Linked DNA regions of Homo sapiens: region 2 is linked to region 1. Evidence: fine-mapped expression QTL. Tissue or cell type: whole blood. Region 1 holds a variant in brackets; the other region holds the start of a gene. All regions are shown on one strand. Distances are from middle to middle.

What was found. PIP is the estimated chance that this variant, and not a neighbour inherited with it, causes the effect.
Region 2: it holds the start of SOS2, and the variant in region 1 is fine-mapped to the expression of SOS2 in whole blood (INTERVAL, PIP above 0.99).

Annotation. Positions count from the first base shown.
Region 1 is chr14:50,162,466-50,170,572 of GRCh38, forward strand. All of the region lies in intron 8 of SOS2 (SOS Ras/Rho guanine nucleotide exchange factor 2), which reads right to left. Among named protein-coding and RNA genes, the nearest start is that of VCPKMT, 50 kb to the left of the region's middle. The variant T/C (reference allele first, on the strand shown) is at 3,931.
Region 2 is chr14:50,227,777-50,235,883 of GRCh38, forward strand. SOS2 (SOS Ras/Rho guanine nucleotide exchange factor 2) reads right to left here and starts at 3,802. Exons shown (of 23, transcript NM_006939.4): 1 at 3,421-3,802. The coding sequence starts at 3,507. RefSeq lists a silencer at 3,394-4,473 and an enhancer at 4,624-4,713.

The DNA of each region.
Region 1 (8,107 bases):
ACCTAAAGCATGAAGCTTACAACTTACTTTTATTCATTAGCAACTATGAATAGAGAAAATAAGTAACTATAAACTATTTCATATTCTCTAATGATTACTTTGTTTTAGCAATTTCAAGTTTACAAATCTTTGTTATATAACATAATCAAGGGTACTAACTTTTAACACTTCAATCTATCATAAACTTTTCCGTAAACAGCATCTCTCAAAGGATTCCACTGCTATTTTTTACAATATGAAATGTCAAGAAACCATGAAAATTAATTCTATCTCAATCTTTAGAAGATTTAGAAACTGACTTATTAATCTCTAAAACTCTGGTTCTATTTCATTTGCCCCAAAATGTTCTCTTGTATTTCACTCTCAGAAAGAAAGCAAATTTACTTATAATAAATAATTCAGATTGTATTGTATTGTGCTCCAATGTTTTGATTTTTTTTTTTTTTTTTGAGACAGGGTCTCACTCTGTCACCCAAACTGGAATACGGTGAGGTGATCATGGCTCACTGCAGCCTTGCCTCAACCTCCTGGACTCAAGTGATCCTTCCATCTCAGCCTCCCAAGTAGCTAGAACTACAGATGTGTGCCACCATGCTTGGCTAATTTTTTTTTTTAATTTTTCTGTAGAGATGGGGTCTCACTATGCTGCCCAGGCTGCCCTCAAACTGTTTTAATCTTTTGAAAGAAGAGTTCAAAGTGGAACATCATATAGATATTATATATATTATGTATTTATAAATATATATTTATGCAAGGATATGGGGAATTATGATCACTTCAGAAAATTTTTAAAAACTTAAATCTATTTTGTGATCTTTAACTTATTAGAGATTTTGTGATAAATTAAAATTTTCCTTATATTCCAAGAGCAATCTCAAAAGCATTCAGCAATGGTTCCCTTTCCTCAGCAAAGAACTAACTGGCTATTGTTTGACAACTTTGTCCATTACCTTTTATTTATGTCTTAGAAATTAGTCTCTATATGAAGCACAGAGCCATTTGATTTTATTTCAAGACACATGTAGAGGTCTTGTCATCAAGAGATTAGCAACATAAATAATGTAAATGACTATTATTAGAAGTAATACCTTAATCTCTAGACTAAGCAATAGAAAGGATGGAAGCAAAGTCAAAATATCATAGAAAGTTTGAAAAAAGATCTGTGCTTGGTTATTCTGACTTCTACAGGTGAAAGTTACTGGCAAAATCACTTATTTTGCTGCTTTAAAGATTTCTTACAGAAAGTCTTCTCAGCTCCACTCTAAAATATTTCTTTAATAAATATGAATGTTGATGACATCAAACACTTAATTAGAACTGTTTTATTCTTGTTTTTGTTTATCCAAATATCTAAATTATCACCAGTAGTGATATCCTACCAAAAAGGTATGATTTTCATTGTCTACTTGGTCTTAAGGCTGCTCAAACTCTTCCACGTGTCATTTTTAAATAACCATGTAATAATTATAAGCTGTAAAGGAGAACAAAATTGAGGATATTTAGAGTGGGATTTCCTGGTAATGGAAGTATATTAAACAACGGCTCTGTTTGGCATAATAATCTGATAATTTGCTAAATATTTCTTGAATTTTCAGCAGTGAGATTTGATAAACATCATATTAATGAATATCCAACTAATATTCTACAGATACTTAAAAGAATGTGTTCCAAACATCTTACACAGAAATTACTGGGCCAGGCAAGGTGGCTCACACTTGTAATCCCAACATACTGGGAGGCCAAGGCGGGCAGATCACTTGAGCCCAGGAGTTCAAGACCAGCCTGACCACACGGAGAAACCTTGTCTCTACAAAAAATACAAAAATTAGCCGGGCGTGGTGATGTGCACATGTAGTCCCAGCTATTTGGGAGGCTGAGGTGAGAGGATGACCTAAGCATGGGAGGTAGAGAATACAGTGAGCTGAGATTGTGCCATTACACTCCAGTCTGGGTGACAGAGTGAGACTCTGTCCCCCGCAAAAAAATGAAAATAAAAATAAAAAATACAAAAAAAAATTAGCTGGACGTGGTGGTGCATGCCTGTAATCCCAGCTACTCAGGAGGCTGAGGCATGAGAATCACTTGAACCTAGGAGGTGGAGATTGCAGTAAGCCAAGATAGCACCACTGCACTCCAGCCTGGGTGATAAGGCGAGATTCTGTCTCCAAAAAAAAAAAAGAAAGAAAAAGAAAAGAAAAATTACTGTACTGAACTATGTGCAAACAAGTAATGTACTTTCATGCCCCCATTCGCTTTCTACACAACAGTCTCTGACCTCCTTATCCACCCGGTGAATTTAGCCACTAGGATACAGTTGAAATGCTTCCTCTTGAAGATGCCTTCTGATTATGCCTTTTCCCTCTTAAATTTTTTCTTTTGAAATATCAAATTTATAGAAAAGTTGTAAAAGTAACACAAATAACTCCTGTAATACTCTGAATCACCAATTTTTAACATTTTGTCACATGCTTCATCATTCTGTGTGCCAGTGTGTGCAGATCGTTTTTTTAGTAGTTGTGATACTATCCACTCAGTTCCTTCCAGAGGAAGGGGGACTACGGCTGAATGGTTTTGCAGTAGTTTTTGGAATATAAGGAAAAGTCAAATGTATCACAAATTACTCTCAAATAGTATCATTCTCCTTTACTCCTTTAATATTTCTCATAGCTCATCTTACAACAAGGATTTTCTTTTACAGAATCACAGTATAGTGATCAACTTCAGGAAATTTAACACCGAGTAATCTACTGCATAATCTAATCTATAGTGTATATTCCAATTTTGCCAACTGTTTTAATAACATCCTTTAAGGTAATATTTTCCCCCAAAACAGGAACTGGTCAGTGAAGCACTAAATTGTCATGTTTCTATTGTCTCTTTTATTCTGGAGAGTTCCTAAGCATTTGTCTTTCATGACTCCCGCAAATAAATAAGGACACACACACCCGCGCACACACTGTTCTCTCTCTCAGTAGGACGAATACCCAAAACCATTATGTATTTTTTTTTACTCCACTGAACAAAGGAAAAATCAATAGGAATTTTTTTCTGCCTTCCCTAAGCAGAGCTAGTAACTCCTGCTTCATTGATCTCATAGTACTACCTCTATTAGGCTCTTATAATATTGTAATTATTTGTTTGACATCTATTTTCTTCACTAAATTGTAAACATCTTAATGCCTAGGGACACGTTTTATTCCTTTTCAGTTTACCTGCATGTGGTAGGTATCCACTAGGTGGTTGTCAGAAGTAACTGGAATAAATGACTACTGTATGATTTTGTTAAGTATTTAGACCAATAATGAATGTTTTTTGAGCTCTGCTCTGTGCACGCTCTTTTATGCATTAGCTTATTTAATTTTTATTACAACTCTGTAACACGAGGTACTATAATCATATGTTACAGATGAAGGAAATGAGGCACAGAGAAATTAAGTAATTTGCCCAATATAAATAGGAGAGTTTATATCCAAACCCAGGAGCTCTGACCCCAAAGTCTCTGCTTTTTTGCTACACTAATACCCCGTGGCTCTACCATGACACCAGACACAGCTACGCAAAACACTGGTCTGTGTCTAAATCTGATGACCACTGAGTTGAAAGGGATTCTTTCTATGTTGAAAACAAACTGGATAACTACTGAGTTTAAGAAATAAAATGAAATGAGTGTACTCTGGAAAAGAGGTCAAAGAGAAAAGATACCCTTGCTACATATGCTTAAAATTAAAAATAAAAGTGATTGTTTATTAATGGGTAATATCTTTTCTTTTTCTTTGAGATAAAGTCTCACTTTGTCAACTAGGCTGGAATGCAGTGGCACGATCTCGGCTCACTGCATCCTCGATGTCCCGGGTTCAAGCGATCCTCCTGCCTTAACCCCCCAACCCCTGAGTAGCTTGGACTACAGGCATTGCCACCACATCCAGCTAA[T/C]TTTTGAATTTTTTGTAGAGATGGGGTTTGGCCATGTTGCCCAGGCTGGTCTCAAATTCCTGAGCTCCAGCAATCCACCTTCCTTGGCCTCCTAAAGTGCTAGGATTACAAGCATGACCCACCGCGCCTAGCTTTAATGGGTAATATCTTATGAACCTAGCTGAAGAATATATTCCTTGCTACCTGATACTCATCATTATCCTTAGTTGTCTATAAGTGTATCCTGTCTAAGATTTTATATTTCATGTAAGTTTTTTCTTAACTCTGTATGAGAATTCACTGAAATATTTACCCTGCTTTTCTTGAAACTCCTACCAAATGCTACATCTACTATGGACATATGTGCCCACAGCAAGGGGAATTTCAATAAATTATGAATTTGTCTCTAATTCACTGTACTAGGAGTTCAGTCTAGGTGTGAAATAAAACATGTAATCAATTCTTTTTTATTAGTAATAAACTCTCTAGATTTTCATAAGAGTGGAGTTGGTAATTTGGTGGGAAATTAAATCCATTAAAACCTATGACTAGGCTGGGCACACGGGCTCATGCCTGTAATCTCTCCACTTTGGAAGGTCAAGGCAGGAGGATCACTTGAGGCCAGAAGTTTGAGATCAGCTTGGGCAACATAGCGAGACTCCCTCTCTAAAAAGAAATAACCTAAAAACCCCAAAACAAACAAAAAACCCGTGATCATATTTCTTTACGTGCTTTTTTAAAAAAAACACTAACTTTAAAAAAAAACACATAAGAAAGTTAACTGTTATTAACTTTCTTTCATATGTACCTGAATCATATGTCAGTACTGAAAAAGTAAATATGTAGTAAAATCCTCTTTATGGTCTTTTTTAAGAGTTGAGAGATTTCTTTCAATAGAGATTGCAAGCTCTTTATGTTATGAATATACTCACACACACACAAAAAGAATGACAAAGCAAGCCTGGGCAACATGACAAAACCCCTTCTCTACAAAAAATAAAAAAACAAAAATTAGCTGGGTATGGTGGCATGCTCTTGTAGTTCTAGCTACTCGGGAAGCTGAGATGGGAGGATTGATTGAGCCTGGGAAGTCAAGGCTGCAGTAAGCCATGAATGGGCCACTGCACTCCAGCCTGGGCGACAAGAGTGAGACTCTGTCTAAAAAAAACAGGAATGATAACAAGCAAATGTTGCATAATGTTAACAACTGGTAGCCAGGCGCAATGACTCACACCTGTAATCCCAGCACTTTGGGAGGCTGAGGCAGGAGGATCACCTGAAATCAGGAGTTTGAGACCAGCCTGGCCAACATGATGAAACCCAGTCTCTATCAAACAATACAAAAATTAGAATGGCGTGGTGGTGTGCACCTGTAATCCCAGCTACTTGGGAGGCTGATGTGGGAGAATTGCTTGAACCCAGGAGGTGGGGGTTGTAGTGAGCCGAGATCACCACTGCACTCCAGCCTGGGCGATACAGTGAGACTCTGTCTCAAAAAAAAAAAAGAAAAAAAAAGTGAGTCCAGGTGAAGGGTGCTCACCACTATTTCTGTAACTTTTTTCTGTTTTTCAAAGTAAAAGGTAAAAAAATATTACCTATAAACTCAATTGTTTCATATTGAAATACTGGTTGATCTTCCTCAATGAACCTCATTGAAGTTATTACTAAGTTTTCCTGTTAAGCTTTAAACTAAATTAATTCCTCTTGAGAGAGAATAATTTTTATTCTTTCCATTACTAAATTTCCAAGGAATGACCAGGGAGTTAGGAGAGTAAGAGAACATTACTTGCCTTTGAATAAACCAGTTCTAAAATGAGAGAGTTAACATGTCCTTAGTAAAAAAGGACAGACATAGATTATTTTCTGAGATAAGGTCTTGCTCTCTTGCCCAGGCTGGAGTGCCGTGGTGTGATCTCAGTTTATTACAGCCTCTAATTCCTGGGCTCAAGTGATCCTCTCATCTCAGTCTCACAAGTAGCTGTGACTACTGGCATGCATTACCACGCTCAGCTAATTTTAAAAATTTTTGTAGAGATGAGGTCTCACTATATTGCCCAGGCTGGTCTCAAACTCCTGGGTTCACGCCATCCTTTCACCTCAGCCTCCCAAAGTGCTGGGATTACAGACATGAGCCACTGTGCCTCGCCTATATACCTTCTTAGAGAAATGTCTAAATCCTTTGCTCATTTTTTTAGTCAGCTTGTTTTTTGTTGTTGAGTTGTAGGAGTTCTTTATGTATTCTGGATAAGAATCTTTTATCAGATATATAATTTACAAATATTTTCCCATTCTATAGAATGCCGTTTCGTGATACTGTTTTGGCTCAGTACTCATCCAAAATAAATTCTGTCTCATGTTAAGCCTACTTTGGGATGAGAATCATAAGAAAGAAGGCTGGACTAGTGTGACTCAAAGGTTATTACATCCCTTTAGTAGTAGAAAACACAATCCTGGAACAGTTTTAACCCACTGTTTTAAAGTATCTGCTTTGGTGATCTACCAAGAGAGATTTATTCTTGGATTTAGTGTTTAAATATTATTTTTTATTTTCCAAAATCAGATTTATGATAAAACAAGATGGAAAAACAACTATATGACAAGAAATTAGAGGATACCATATATAGTTACCTAAAATTATTTCAAAGTACATTGTTAGGCCTGGTGCAGTGGCTCACGCCTGTAATCCCAGCAGTTTGGGAGGCCAAGGCAGGCGGATCATTTGAGGTCAGGAGTTTGAGACTAGCCTGACCAACATGGTGAAACCCCGTCTCTACTAAAAATATTAAAAAAAATTAGCCAGGCATGGTAGCACGCATCTGTAATCTCAGCTACTCAGGAGGCTGAAGCAAGAGAATCGTTTAAACCTGGGAGGTGGAGGTTGCAGTAAGCCGAGCCTGCACCATTGCACTCCAGCCTGGGCGACAGAGTGGGACTCCATCTCAAAAAAAATAAAAATAAAAATAAAAAACAAACAAACAGGCCAGGCACAGTGGCTCACACCTGCAATCCCAGCACTTTGGGAGGCCGAAGGCAGGTGGATCACTTGAGGTCAGGAGTTTGAGACCAGCCTGGCCAACATGGTGAAACCCCATCTCTACTAAAAAAAAATAGAAAAATCAGCTGGGTGTGGTGGCGGTCACCTGTAATCTCAGCTACTTGGGAGGCTGAGGCAGGAGAATCACTTGAACCTGGGAGGCAGAGGTTGCAGTGAGCCAAGATTGCACCACTGCACTCCAGCCTGGGTGACAGAGTGAGACCGTGCCTCAAAAAACAAACAAAGTACATTGTTGGTTTATTGTTACTCATGGCAATATATATTGTTATATACATTGTTGGAATAATGTTATATTATTGTTGCCATGCAACAATTTATATTGCATGGCAATATATATTGTTACATATATATAGTTAACTCATGGCAGATATATAGAATATATATCTATAATATATTCACTTTATAGATAATACTTTTTTGTTCTTTTCAAATTTAAGCCCCATAAGGTTGATCACAAACTACTGTTTTCATTTTTCTTCTCAGATAAATTTTGTTTATTTATTAATTTACTTTTAAGACAGAGTTTCACTCTGTCATCTAGGCTGGAGTGTACTGACGTAAACATGGCTCACTGCAGCCTTGACCTCCTGGACTCAAGCAATCCTCCTGCCTCAGCCTCCCTAGTAGCCGGGACCACAGGCATGCACCACTATGTCCAGCTAATCTGATTTTTTTTTTTTTTTTGTAGAGACAAGGTCTCACTTTGTTGCCCAGGCTGGTCTTGAACTCCTGGGCTCAAGTGACCTTCTCACCTTGGCCTCCCAAAGCGCTGAGATTATAAGCATGAGGCACCTTACCCCACTTTCTAAGATAAATTTTAGATAAATTTCTACAAACTGCTTTTTAAACATAATTTTAGATTATTATCTTAACATATAATTCAATCTTCATGCAAGAAGGAAAAGAAAAAAAATCACTTCTTGATTTATAAGTAACTTTATAACATAATTCTTATATCCAAAGAAAAAAAATATAGCCAGGTATGGTGGCTCATGCCTGTAATCCCAGGACTTTGGAAAACTGAGGCAGGCAGATTGCTTGAGCCTAGGAGTTCAAGACCAGCCTAGGCAACATGGTGAGACTCTATCTCTACAAAAAATTTAAAAATTAGCTGGGCATGGTAGCACACATCCGTAGTCCTAG
Region 2 (8,107 bases), 65 kb after region 1:
TCCCTTGAATTTTCAATGTTGACAATGGTGACTTTGTCAAATACATATATATATGGATCTATATATGGGTATATATGGATATATACATGGATATAGACATAGATATCCAGTTTTCATAAAAACTAGCCAAAACTGGAAAATAAGCAAAAGAATACTGGCTGTGTTTCAGTACAGTGCTATGCTTGAATCTTTTATTAATTTCTACTGACTATTTTACACATCTATAAGATTAAGTTACAGCTTTTCAGCAGATAGAGATGCAAGTAATTTTTTTTTTTTTTTTGAGATGGAGTCTCGCTCTGTCGCCCAGGATGGAGTGCAGTGGTGTGATCTCGGCTCACTGCAACCTCTGCCTAGCAGGTTCAAGTGATTCTCCTGCCTCAGCCTCCTGAGCAGCTGGGATTACAGGCACACACCACCACACCCAGCTAATTTTTGGTATTTTTTAGTAGAGACGGGGTTTCACCATGCTGGCCAGGCTGGTCACGAACTCCTAAACTCAGTTGATCCACCAGCCTCAGCCTCCCAGAGTGCTGGATTACAGGTGTGAGCCACCACGCCCACTGAGATGCAAGTAATTTTTAGCCAGAGGAAAATATAACCCAAAGCCTACTCTTTTATGTTTCTTGTAGGGTATTAACTAATTCTGTATGTAACCCAACAGTCTTAATATTCCCTTATTAAATTGCCTATAAATACCTCCTCAAATTTTCATATTAAGTGACTTTAACATCTTACTAGTTCCCTCATCAATGGGCTGAATCAAAATAATTGATACATGTTCATTTACATTTGCATGGAAGTGATGACTTTACCTTTCTGAAAATTACGTTCTAACAGTTTTGGAGGTTCCACCAAGATGTCCAAGTGGACTAAACTGACAGAGCCAAGTAAGCTACATTGCTGCTTTCATAGACACACAAATACCCCTTACTGAACTCTGAGCTCAGAACCGCTCTCATTTACATAAACCAAAACCTCAAATTTTAGAATTTTTGGTTTAGATGGTATACATCTTTGGAGGGGCCTTTATTTTAACTTTGTACTCTTAGGATCCCGCATCATGTCAAGTATGTAAAATGTGTTCAATAATGGTTAAGTGAATTAATGAAGCTAGAATACACCACATGTACAATGGCAACACCAATTGAAGGAGAGAGATATTCCAATCAAATCCTAGTTGTCTTTGTAACGATCTGGTCAGCTAGAGGAAGGATGCCAAGTTCTAGATGCTCTGAATGTGAAGACAGAGACTCCCCCAAAATGGTAGAAATTCTCATTTTACAAAGACAAGGTGGCTGATGCATACCAGAATTTAAAACTTCCTGCAAAGAAAGAGTGAACCTTTAGCTCCCTAAGAGCTACAGCTCTTAGCAGGCACTACAGACCTACAAGTTGCAATGTCCTAAATACCATAAAAGTGGACATAATCTTAATTACTTTTACCAAAATTTTTCCAAAAATATAAAAAAATTTTCCATACGTATGTATTTCAATTCTATCACAACAGTAAGTTAATAGAAAATGTTTTCTGAATTCACCTCAAAAGACCAAATTTTCTTAGATGTATTTATTTCATAAAGAACATACTAGAACTGTGGAATATAACATAGTATCTACAAGGCACCTGAGTTCCAGGAAAACAAGCACAATATAAATGCAAAGTAATAGCACCAAAGCAATGGACTAGGATTGGATGCTAATCTTGGCTTCTCCAGCCTAACTTGAAAAAAAAAAAAAAAAATCTGGGTCTGGTGCGAGGTGGTTTATGCCTGTAATCCCAACAGTTTGGAAGGCAGAGGTGGGCGGACTGCTTGAGGCCAGAAGTTCAAGACCAGCCTGGGCAACATAGCATAACCCTGTCTCTATTTGAAGAAAAAGAAAACATAAATCTGTTTCTGGACATAAAGGATTATTAGAATCAAAGCTACCTATTGAACAAGTTATGCAACACACACCCAAATACTATTTGCTACCAGAAAGTTATAAATGGGTATATACCTGCGTCACATTGCCAACAATATAGGCCTACCTGATTACTGCACTCACACTTGTCTGTGGTCAAAGGGCTAATTACTATCTAGGCATTTCCCCCTTTGCTTTTAATTCAGGCCAGAGTTCATTTTCACCACTCAGCACACTTTTCATTTCTTTCCCTCTCCTTACAGAATTGGGCTGCACATGGAAGTAAGGTCAATTTAATACTTTAGCACTTGGTATACCAATGGAATAACTGTCTAGCTGCCACTAGTCATTTCTGCCAGGTTCTTTAAAAAGATACGACTTAGTGTTTGCCCTGAGGAAAGCAATACTTCCTTGTAAGAATTATGAAAATAAGGGAAAATCTGCAACTCTCATCGCATGAGGAAAATGTCTTTAACTTTAAAATACACTACTTCCTTTCATTTATAGAAATTTAATGTCTGAGGATATATTTTCCAAGTATAGTCTTTTAAATTAATCTTTATTTTTTCCTTATTTTAGAATGTATTCTTGGTTATTTTGCACAAAAGGCAGAAGAGACTAAGTCTGCATTAACGGCAAAGAAAGAAAGCCCCTGCTCAACAGGCATGACAGCTGATCACGCACCTATTCACAGTCTTTAAATGTCTTGATCTTACAGAAGGATTTATTATAAAAATGATCGTATGGTTACTACCTAAATTCACAGAGGAAGACCGCCACCATCTACAGGAAAGATGCACCCTAGCAATGCACCCAAACATGAAAGACTGATTTGCAGGAGTTGCCCCTTTCTTGTTCCTTAAAATGATTTCAAGTCCTAAATCGCAATTTGGTCGTGAAGACACTGAAGACACTGACCAAATTTTCTAAGGGTAATCTCTTGTAAACAGGTAAGACACCGTTTGCAGGAAGTGGGAAGGCGCTTTAAATTTACCTTGAGAACTGTAAAATGAATAAGAATATTATGACTCACTGACATTTCACACATGTGAAACATCCATATTACAAAAAACCATTGCCTCATAAGTGGATACCCTTGACAAGCAAACCGCCTAGGGGGAACACTCCCAAAGAACTTAATTAAAAGTAATTACCCGGCCTGAAAATGTGCTTTTGTTTTAGAAACTGTCTAAATACCAGCGGGACTTTCTCTTGCCCGATTCCAGCCTGAGGACAACAAATTGGTCAACGGCGGAAGTTGCCTGACGAAATGACTGCAACATGAAATCCAGTTTTATGATCATAACAAAACCTTCCTTCCGGGACCAGGCAAAAAAAAAAAACTTGAGAAACGTCCTTCAGAATGCAACAGGCAATTGTGAGCCCCCCATTGCCAGCCAACGAGAAACGGCTCGGCCCCGGGGACTCGAGCCCTGTGGGAGGGACGACCTGCTCCCCGTTAGAAGCTCGGGGGGCCACGGGCCACCCGCCGGCCGCCCCGCCCCTAGCACTGACCTTCCGCAGGGCCGAGACCAACAGTCCCCGCCATTTCGGACTGTTCTCCTCGCTGAAGAACTCGTAAGGCTGCGGCGCCTGCTGCATGGCCCCGGCGACAGCGCCTCCGCATCGGGGGCAGCCCGCGGGCCGGGCCGGTGGCCTGACAGGCAGGGCGCGGGCCGCCTCGCCTCGCCGGCGGCCGCCGCCTCCCGCCCGGGCCGAGGCTACGGCCGAGGCGGCTCGGAGGCGGCGCCGGCGGGCTGGCGGAGACCCCGGGGTCGGCTTCCTCCGCCGAGGCGGCCCTCGCCTCCCGCAGCGCCCGCAGAGGAAGCGCGGCGACCCGCAAGCCCGGGCGACCCCGGGCGGCGACCTCCTTTCCCGGCGGCGCTGGCCCGCTTCTGGGGCGGCTCCTCCTCCTTTGTCTGGGTTCGCGGCCCGTCAGGGGTACAGCTGGCCCAGCCCCGCCCCGACTCCCGCTACGGCCGCGGCGGGCGGTGAGCAGCGGCGGCGGCGGCGGCGGCTGCTCGTCTCCTCATCGCCTCCTCCCCGCCCTCCCAGCCGACAGCGCCGCCCGGCCCTGCCCACTCGAGTCACCTCCACAGAGCTCTGGGGACCGACCCGGAGTGCGCGTCGGGCGAGCGAGCCTCGCTATGGCGCGCACAGCGCTGGCCGCCGTTGCTGCCCCTTTAGCAGCAGCGCAGAGTGCCTTGGGGTCGCCGCTGAGCCCTGAGTCCCAGCAGCCGAGGCTCGGCCCGCCCCCTCGGCCCGGCGCTCATTATCCCGAATAGCCCAAGAGGCCTAACACGGAGCATGCGCGCCGCGGAGCAGGCACAGGCGCCAGCCCGGCGCGGGGGTGCGGGGCCTGGGGCCCCGGGGGAGTCCGCTTTTCCCGAGACTGTGCTGGGGGCCGCTCCAGACTCTTCAGTTTGACTGCTTTTTACCCATATGCTCCCTCCTCTCGACCTGCTTAAGACAATCCGGACTCGGTGCCACTCTTGTAGCGCTGGAGCCCCAGGACTACCGTCGTGGGAGGCTGCATAGGGACGTGGAGAGAAAGGGGCATTCGGGCTGGACAGGATATTTAACGTATTTGTGCTCTACGTGGCTTGTTTTCATGAGTACCGTATGTTTACACAAAGTAGGTACTATATATAATATATCGTTAGGAGATACAGTAACTATTTCTTAGGGTGATGGTGTGGGGACCGAGAGATGAGGCGTGGAAAGCCCTTAGCCTGGTGGTAGGGTCAGAAGGGGCAGATGACAGTGACGTTGATCAAGCTTGAATTGAAAGGTCCTTCACTTGCACGGGCCCCTGTGCGTTCACAAAATCATATCGTTTTTACAAAACTTTCAAGATATTTTCGAATTGTTTTCTTAATCGTGTCATCCAAATTGTGTAGGCTTCAGGTCCTACAAAACCTGGATCGGCGTCTAGGAAACACTCATTAGCAACCCAGAAAAGATCCTGACAAGCTTTTCAATCCAAAGAGGCATAGGCTCTGGTAACTCATTACCACAAATTTCATCCCACTAAAGAGGCTGAGCACATTACTTTTAACAGGTTGTAAAGAAGATATTTTACTCCCTGTCCCTAGCCACCAGCAGTGAGAAAGGGAAAAGACGAACAGGGTACAAAAAATAAGTCAGTACTACAATTCAGTTCCGGCATCAGTAGCTGAGCAATTATTCTCCCCAAAACATGCACCACTTTTTCATTTGGGCAAAATCAGAATGGCAGAGTTGGAAAATAAGATTATTTTTCTAATCCACTAAAGTATCCACTAAATCAAGAACATCCTCTAATAAATGGCCATATCCATTCACATGTACTTGGGATAAAAGGTGGGATGGTAAAATGCTTGTATTTCTCCCATTAATGTTTCAGTCTGTGAGAGCGAAGACTTTGGCTTATATAGAGGGTCCTTACTTTTCTCTCCTGTTCCCAGACTCCAGCTATAAACTACTGTGATGTCAAACTACTAGACCATGTATGTTCTCTTTACTCATAGGAGAGTAAACTTGTTAGAAATCTCATTCTTGGCTAGGAATATCAGAAGGCTTTTCTGGGCCAAGTCAGGCCTGAAGACATATTTTGTTTAGCTAAGGCTGTATTTAAATTTAATTGTTAACATTTTAAAATCAAGAGGCTTCATATAAAAATGTATATTTTCAGCTTCTCTTGACAAAGATCTGGCAACACTGGGACCTACTGCATTCGTGCAAGAGAGTAATCAGCAGGCACCGGGTAGTGGCTGCCCTCTTTATAAAAATATGCCATCCATTTCCAGTTGGCTATACTTCCCACCTGGCACTCTTCACCCTTTTATGTAACTTGCCTAGTCTCTACAGGCATCTGAGTTCTGATGTCTGGGCTGAGCAAACAGAAATATGATCCACGTGCATGTGGAGGATAGTCCAAGAATGACAGCAGTAAAAAGTTTCCCATTCAGGGCCGGGCGAGGTGGCTCACACCTGCAATTCCAGCACTTTGGGAGGCCGAGGCGGGTGGATCACCTGAGGTCGGGAGTTTGAGACCAGCCTGACCAACATGGAAAAACCCCCTCTCTACTAAAAATAACAAAACTAGCTGGGCAAGGTGGCGCATGCCTGTAATTCTTAGCTACACGGGAGGCTGAGTCAGGAGAATCGCTTGAACACGGAAGGTGGAGGTTGTGGTGAGCTAGATCACGCCATTGCACTCTAGCCTGGGCAACAAGAGCAAGACTCCGTCTCAAAAAAAAAAAAGTTTCTCATTCAGACAAATGGGCTATCTAGAAAAAATGTTGGATCCATACCCTATACAATACACTAGCAAAAACTCCAGATATGTCAAAGATTTAAATGTAAACAATAAAACCATACAATGATTCATTTATAACCTCAGAACGGAAAAAGACACTTTCACTATGACACAAGATCTAAAAGACCGATAAATTCAATTTTTATAAATGTATGAGCCGGGCATGGTGGTACATGCCTGTAATCCCAACAACTCCAGTGGCCGAGGTAGAAGCATAGCTTGAGGCCAGGAGTTGAAGACCAGCCTGGGCAACACAGTAAGACCCTGTCTCTTTAAAAAAAAAAAAAAAAAAAAAAAAAAAGGGCAAAAAAAATCACCAGATAAGCCAAAAGGAAAATGACAAACTGGAAAAAATAGCAGCAACTCATTTTTGTGGGTTTTTTGTTTGTTTGTTTGTTTGTTTGAGATGGGGTCTTACTCTAACTCAGGCTGGATTGCAGTGCAGCGGCATGATCTTGGGTCACTGCAACCTCCGCCTCCTGGGCTCAAGTGATCCTCCCACTTCAGCCTCCCGAGTAGCTGGAATCACAGGCACGTGTCACCATGCCCGGCTAATTTTTTGTATTTTTGGTAGAGACAGGGTCTCACCATGTTGCCCAAGCTGGTGCAATTCATTTTTGTAGTTAATTTCAGTAAAATATAAAAGAGCTCCTACAAATTAAAAGGCTAAAATTCAATAAGAAAAACAAAGGGGCCAGGCACAGTGGCTCAACACCTGTAATCCCAGCACTTTGGGAGGCCGAGGCAGGAGGATCCCTTGAGCCCAGGAATTGAAGACGAGCCTGGGCAACATAATGAGACCCCATCTCTATAAAAAAACTTTTTAAAAAATTTAAAACAAAAAAAGAAAAAAGAAGACATACAAATGGCAAATGGGATATGACAAGGTGCTCAACATCATTGATCATTAGAGAAATGCAGATCAAAACTACAATAAGATATCATCTCACCCCAGTTAAAATGGCCTATATCCAAAAGACAGATAATAACAAATGCTGTTGAGGATGTGGAGAAAAAGATAATTCTCTTTTGGGGGTTATACTGTTATCATTTTTCACCTATTAGAATAGCACAGATGAAAAAGTTTGATTACACACTATGATGGTGAAGATATGAGGAAACAAGCATTCTAATATATTGTAAGTGTATTAGGACTATAAATTGTTTCAACTTCTGTCAAGGGGAACTAGATAATATCAAAGTTTCTCTTTGACCTAGCAAATTCTAGGAATATGTCCTGTAGATATACTTGCTCTTACATGAAGTCACTTAGAGACAAGGTTATTCATTGCAGTGTTGTTTATTATACCAGAAGTAAAGCAAAACAAAAAACGCCCTAGAAATAAACAGTTTAAATAATCATCAGTAGGAATAGGGGACTAGTTCAATAAATAATAGTAAATCCATACAGTGGAACCTATAAAGTTATTTTAAAATAACCAGGCCTCTGTGGAACATTATCTAAGATATGCTGCAAAATGAAAAGTGCAGGATGTATAGTACTGCAAGTATGGTTCCTCATATATATATATATATATATATATAAGGAATGCAGCATTTTATTATATAAGCATTTGACTCAAATAATTTCTCTGCATTTACCGTATTGGTCTGTTCGCATGCTGCCAATAAAGACATACCCAATACTGGGTAATTTATAAAGGAAAGAGGTTTAAACAACTCACAATTCCACAGGGCTGGGGAGGCCTCAGGAAACTTTACAATCATGGTGGAAGGGGAAGCAAACATGTCCTTCTTCACATAGCGGCAGCAAGGAGAAGTGCTGAGCAAAAGTGGGAAAAGGCCCTTATAAAACCATCAGATTTTGTGAGAACTCACTATCATGAGAACTGCAGCATGGGAGTAATCGCCCCCATGATTCAATCACATCCTACCGGGTCC